Regions from separate parts of the Homo sapiens genome. Here region 1 is linked to region 2. The links come from fine-mapping of genetic effects on gene expression. A gene starts in region 2. The other region holds a variant in brackets. All regions are shown on one strand. Distances are from middle to middle.

Evidence for each region. PIP is the estimated chance that this variant, and not a neighbour inherited with it, causes the effect.
Region 1: its variant is the best candidate, but not a certain one, in a credible set for the expression of FN3KRP in monocytes after LPS (Fairfax 2014, PIP 0.62).

The regions. Positions count from the first base shown.
Region 1 is chr17:82,934,679-82,937,573 of GRCh38, reverse strand. It overlaps TBCD (tubulin folding cofactor D), which reads right to left. Exons shown (of 39, transcript NM_005993.5): 35 at 214-303. Among named protein-coding and RNA genes, the nearest start is that of ZNF750, 96 kb to the right of the region's middle. The variant G/C (reference allele first, on the strand shown) is at 1,458.
Region 2 is chr17:82,715,366-82,718,260 of GRCh38, reverse strand. FN3KRP (fructosamine 3 kinase related protein) reads right to left here and starts at 1,555. Exons shown (of 6, transcript NM_024619.4): 1 at 1,365-1,555. The coding sequence starts at 1,505. It overlaps LOC101929552 (a long non-coding RNA gene), which reads left to right and starts at 2,008. Exons shown (of 2, transcript NR_136400.1): 1 at 2,008-2,694. RefSeq lists silencers at 1,229-1,318, 1,399-1,478, 1,499-1,738.

The DNA of each region.
Region 1 (2,895 bases), 220 kb before region 2:
CTCGCCTGTTCCCGCGGGAACTCCCTCCACCAGCACCTGGGCTGCCTCACCTCCCATTGCGACTGCTTTGAACATTGGAATGCACGATCTTAGGTTAGCTTGAGGAGTAACACTAACTGCTCCTCTCCCGCCTGGAGCCGTGGACTCCTGCCCTCAGCCAAGGGAGGCTGCGCCCTGCCATTCCGTCTAAGGCCAGCAGCACTTGAAACTCACACTGCGATGCCTGACAGGAGCTTCTGGATATCTTTTGAATTCTTGATTTCTTTCTTACAGAGCGCAAGCAACTTCACAGCAAAGGGGTGGCTGGAAGAACAACACACACTTTAGAGATGAGCTTTCACAGGCAGCCCCGGGATGCACACTTTTTCTGTCTCAAAGAAGGTCAACTCCGTCCTCCCAGTGGCTCAGTCCAAGAAGCCTGCAGCCCTGAGGCCCCTCTGCCAGCAAGTCCGCTGGTCCCCATCCCAATACCTCCACAGGCCGGCCTGGTCCCTAGCGGCTGTGCCACCACCTGGCCGGCCTCTGCTGTCTCTTGCTCTCTTGCCTGTGGTGCAGCAGCCCCCACGGGGCCCCACCTCCCTTTCCAGGCCCCAGGGTCTGTCCCCAACACAGCGGCGGCCAGGATGCCCGTGCTCCTCCACCACTCCCTCCAGAGGCTACCTGGCCTGGGCTGCTGCAGAGCCGGGGGAAACTGCCGACACACAGAGGACACACAAGGCTGTGCAGTGTTGTTTTGAGCCTTCAGTGGCAGCAGGGACAAGGGCTGAGGCTTGGTGCTGACAAAGGCACAGCCCTGATGAGCAGCTCTGAGAGGGCACCTGGAAGGCCACTCCAGGGAGGAGAAGGTGCGCACCTCCCTCTCTCAGTGGGGAATGCAGCCAAGCTCCAGCCACCCAACAGGCCAGGAAACCCTCACTGCTGACCGTGAGTCAAGGAGACCCCAGGCTGCTGCTACCCTCTCCTCAGGTGCCCAGAAAAGGCAAACTAAGGTCCTGCCTGCCAAAGCACAGGCTTAGCCCAGACCTCGGCTTGCTCTGAGGTGCGACCCCTCAAACGCAACGTCCCGAGAGAACACAATACCAGACAAGTAAGAAGACAAAGAAACCCGCTCAGGTTGCAACTCAGACACACCCAGCCAAACAGGCAGGAAAAGAGCATTCAAGAGGATGAACACCGGGCACGGAAGGAAGGGCCGCAGGGAACGGCGAAGCGGAAAGCGCTACAAGCAGACGTGGAAACACGCGAGACAAAAAACCTACACCTGAAAAGACGCAAAACTCCACAATAAGAATTCCACAAATCACAGTTAAAAGTCATTTAGAGACATCTTCAGAGAGAATCAGCAGCTGGCAGGCGGGCCAAAGGTAATGAAGCAAAGAGAGAGGGAAAAGACGTGTGAAAATTGCAGAGGGGGTGACCGAGGGAAACACGTGAGCGTGATAATGACAGAAAAACCA[G/C]GGAAGGAGCAAACCTGGGCAGGGGGTGGGAAACCCGGGCCGTTTCCAGGGAGCACAGGCAGACTCAGAGGTAACACTCAAAAGCAACAACAGAAGCAAGGAGGAAGTGGGAAAATATTTTTAATGTGCTACAACGAAACAGCTGCCTGAATTCTATATACCCTCTGAAAATAATCTGCACATAAAATGGGAAAGCTTCACCGCAGCAGACCCCACTCGAGGAAATCCAAGGGAGTGTGCTCTAGGGAGAGGGAATGTGAACCCCGATGGGGGGGGTCCCAAAAGCAGTAAGTGATGAGAGACAAAGAAAGTAAAAACGTGGAAAATTCAAAGTAACGCAAATTACACATACCACAATGAACAGGAAAGTACGTACATCTAAGACAAAATATCCGACAATAGCAGCACATAACTCAAGACGGAAGCACGCGGAACCAACACGTTCTAATATCCTTGCTATTGTCCAATAAGGACAAAATGCTGAAAACTGGACTTCGCTAAGAATACGTGGTGTCATTTCTAATTTCTAGGGTAAGCGTTAACAGAAAAAAGTAAAATGTCCCAAACAAATATATGAAAACAATGGAATGACAAAAGCAATTCTACTAATCCAACAAAAAGCACAGGTGGGGGCGGGGAGGGGGCACTGGGAACGCAGCACAGGGAAAAGTCCTGTGAGTGGCAGGCTGAGAACCAAGGGGATTATAAAGGTCATGAAGGAGGCAGGTAAAAGCTACAGGCTGAATTTTTACAAAACCATACACTGTTCTAAGAGAGGCGTACAAAAACATACATGTATGAAGATACTGAAAGTAAAACGATGGAAAAAAGTATACAGTTCAAAGTCAAGTGAAGCAAGACAAAGAATGAGTGGAGCAAAAAGCATCCTAGAAATGGGTGATAAGGGCAAGATTCAGCCCACAAACACGCTTCAAAATCTGAAAAGCCAAAACTGACAAAACTGTAGAGAGAAATACAAAGCTGTATTCATAGCAGGACATGGCAGGAGGTATTTTCTCTACCATCCTATCTTGGAAAAAAAATTTTTTTTTTGAAACAGAGTCTGGCTGTGTTGCCCAGGCTGGAGCACAGTGGCTCAATCTCAGCTCACGGCAACCTTCGCCTCCCAGGCCCAAGCCGTACAGGCACCACCACACCCGGCTAATGTTTTTGTATTTTTTGTAGAGATGGGGTTTCACCAAGTTGGCCAGGCTGGTCTCAAACTCCGGAGCTCAAGTGATCCACTCGCCTTGGCCTCCCAAAGTGCTGGGATTACAGGCGTGAGCCATGGCGCCCAGGCTTATTTTGAAATTTTTAAGCCAGAAAAATATATGTCAATATTTTAGGCCAGGTACGGTGGCTCACGCCTATAATCCCAGCACTTTGGGAGGCAGAAGTGGGCAGATCACCTCAGGTCGGGAGTTCGAGACCAGCCTGA
Region 2 (2,895 bases):
GCTACACACACCACTGCCCTGCCTGCTCTCCCATCCTCATCTGGGGCTCCACCCTTACACACACAGACACATAACACACACACACAACATATACAGACACACAACACACACACAACACATACAGACACACAACACACACAACATACGACTTACAGACACACCATACACACACAACACACAGACACACACACACAACATACACAGCAGTGATCCCCGCAGAACAGGTCAGGGCCAGCGGCCTTTCTTTTTCTCCTGAGACACACACCACTGCCCTGCCCACTCTCCCATCCTCACCTGGGGCTCCACCCTTACACACACACAGACACACAATACATACACACAACATACAAACATTACAAACATACACACATACAACGTACACACACACAACATACACATAGACACACACACTCTCCTCGTGCTCCTGACTTCCAGCTGTCTTCATCCTTCTTTCAGTTCTTCAGAGTCCCCACCTCCTCAGCCTCAGAGCCCCACCACAGCTGCCATGTCACCGCTGCTAGGAACACTCTTTTTTTTTTGAGACGGAGTCTCATTCAGTCACCCAGCAGGCTGGAGTGCAGTGGCGCGATCTCGACTCACTGCAACCTCTGCCTCCTGGGTTCAAGCGATTCTTCTGCCTCAGCCTCCCGAGTAGCTGGGATTACAGGCGCCCGCCACCACGCCCAGCTAATTTTTGTATTTTTAATAGAGACGGGGGTTTCACCTTGTTGGCCAGGCTGGTCTCGAACTCCTGACTTCGCGCTCCACCCACCTCTGTCTCCCAAAGTGCTGGGATTACAGGCGTGAGCCACCGCGCCCGGCCCGAGAATGAGTCTAACAGAAGGACAGAGCATGCCAGGGTGTGGTGAGGCGCAGCAGCTGGCCTGGGGGCAGCACCTTCGCCCCGTTTCACAACGTACTGACCGAGGCTCACGGGGGATGGACACCTCCAGAGTCACTTAAGCTGAGGACTTAAGCAGCTTCCCCGGCTAGAACGACCCCACTTAACCAGCACCGCAGGGCAGGAACCCCGGGAGCAAGACTGCAGCAGCCAGTCCCGCCCCATTTCACGTAGCGCCCCCGAGAGAAAGTTCACGGAGAACAGGAGGTGTGGGGCGGCCGCGGTTCCTGCTCCGGACAGTTCCCCGCAGGTGCAAACTCCTCCGGACGCCCCGGACGCTTCCGCCGCCCCCGTTCACCGCTCGCCCCGCGCAAAGGGTTCCCCGCAAGGGGCGGCGGCGGCAGTCCCGGGAGAGCCACCCACGGCCTCCGGCGGGAGAAGCCCAGGCCGCGCCCCGCGCCGAGGCCCGCGACCCTCTCCGGAAAGAAACCGGTCCCCCGGCCCGCCCGACCCGCTGCCTGACCTCCGCCTTGGGGTTCACTTTCACGAACACTCGTCCTTGATCCGTGTCGTAGCTCCGGCCCTGGCTGATGCACCCGCCCCCCGAGTGGCCCGTGGCCCTGACAGAGCTGCAGCCCAGCTCGCGCCTCAGGAGCTCCTCCATGTTCCCGCCGCGGCCGCGGACCCGCCCCGGATCTGGCGGAGACTCGAGAGACGGCGGCCGAGCGGGCAAACATGAGTCCGCGCGAGGATTGGGCGGGGGGCGGGTGGGGGCGGGGCCCGGCCGCAGAGACAAGCGCTAGGATTGGGTGGCGGGAAGGGGCGGGCGTGGCCGCAGAGATGAGCGCTGGGATTGAGGGGCGGGAAGGGGAGGGGCCGGGAGGCAGGTAGGCGCGGGGGATTGGGTGGGGGTGAGATGACGTCAGGGGGCGGGGCCTGACCGACCCCGACCCAGACGGTTTGGGTTCAACTCTCCTGCACAAAATAAGTGGAAATGCTGATGGAAATAGTTAGAATATATTTTCTAAAGAGCTGACCCACTAGCAAGGGGCATCAGCCCAAGGTCTGGGTGCCGGGAGCCCAGAATGTTAAGATTGCTTTCGCCCGGGCGTTTGCTGAACCCGAGGAACAGAGCTCCTGATGTGGGGAGTGGCGGGCGCGCTCGGGGTGCACGTGCAACGGAGACACCGCCCCTAAACCTGGGGCCCTGAGGCTAACAGCTAACAGTGGCCCTGCCGTTACGGCCAGTGTCAGGTGCCAGCTGGGCTGGACCAGGAATTCCCAGAAACCTGGCAAGGCATGATTTGGGGTGGGTCGTGCTGAGGGCCACACCATCCGCTTCCCCGCTTCTGAGGCCTTCCGACCTGGGCTGAGCCCGGCTACCCGAGTCCCGGGGTCTCCGGCTCACAGACTTCTCGGCCTCCGTAATTGCAAACGCCAGCTCCCCCAGTCCATCTCCTGTCCTGGATCTACGTCTATATCCTACTGGATCCGTCTCTCTGGAGAACCCTAATACAGCTGTCAACACAAGGATGAACTAACTACAAGAAGGCCTGAATAGGAACTCTCCCAGGGGACGAAGAGGTTTCAGCCTTCAGCAAAGGATGGTTCATAGAAACCGTTCGCATAGTCGGCCCTCCACGGACTGCAACCCTAGTTAATATTACCTACAGTAAACAAAAAATTCAAGTATAGATTTTAGTCTAAAGCAAATAGGAAATGTCGCTTCCCTGGACGTTGGGAGAAGCAAACACGAATCCTCTCCTGAGGCCGGAAGCGGTGGCTCACGCCTGTAATCCCAGCACTTTGGGAGGCTGAGGCGGGCGGATCATTTTATAACTATCTATTAAATGGTACATATGTGTGTGTTCACGCACTTTTCTGTGTGTATACCGCATTTCATAATTTTAAAAAGCAAAAAAGATTAGCGGGGCGTGGTGGCGGGCGCTTGTAATCCCAGATACTCGGGAGGCTGAGGCAGGAGAATCGCTTGAACCCGGGAGGCGGAGGTTGCAGTGAGCTGAGATCCCGCCATTGCACTCCAGCCTGGGTGA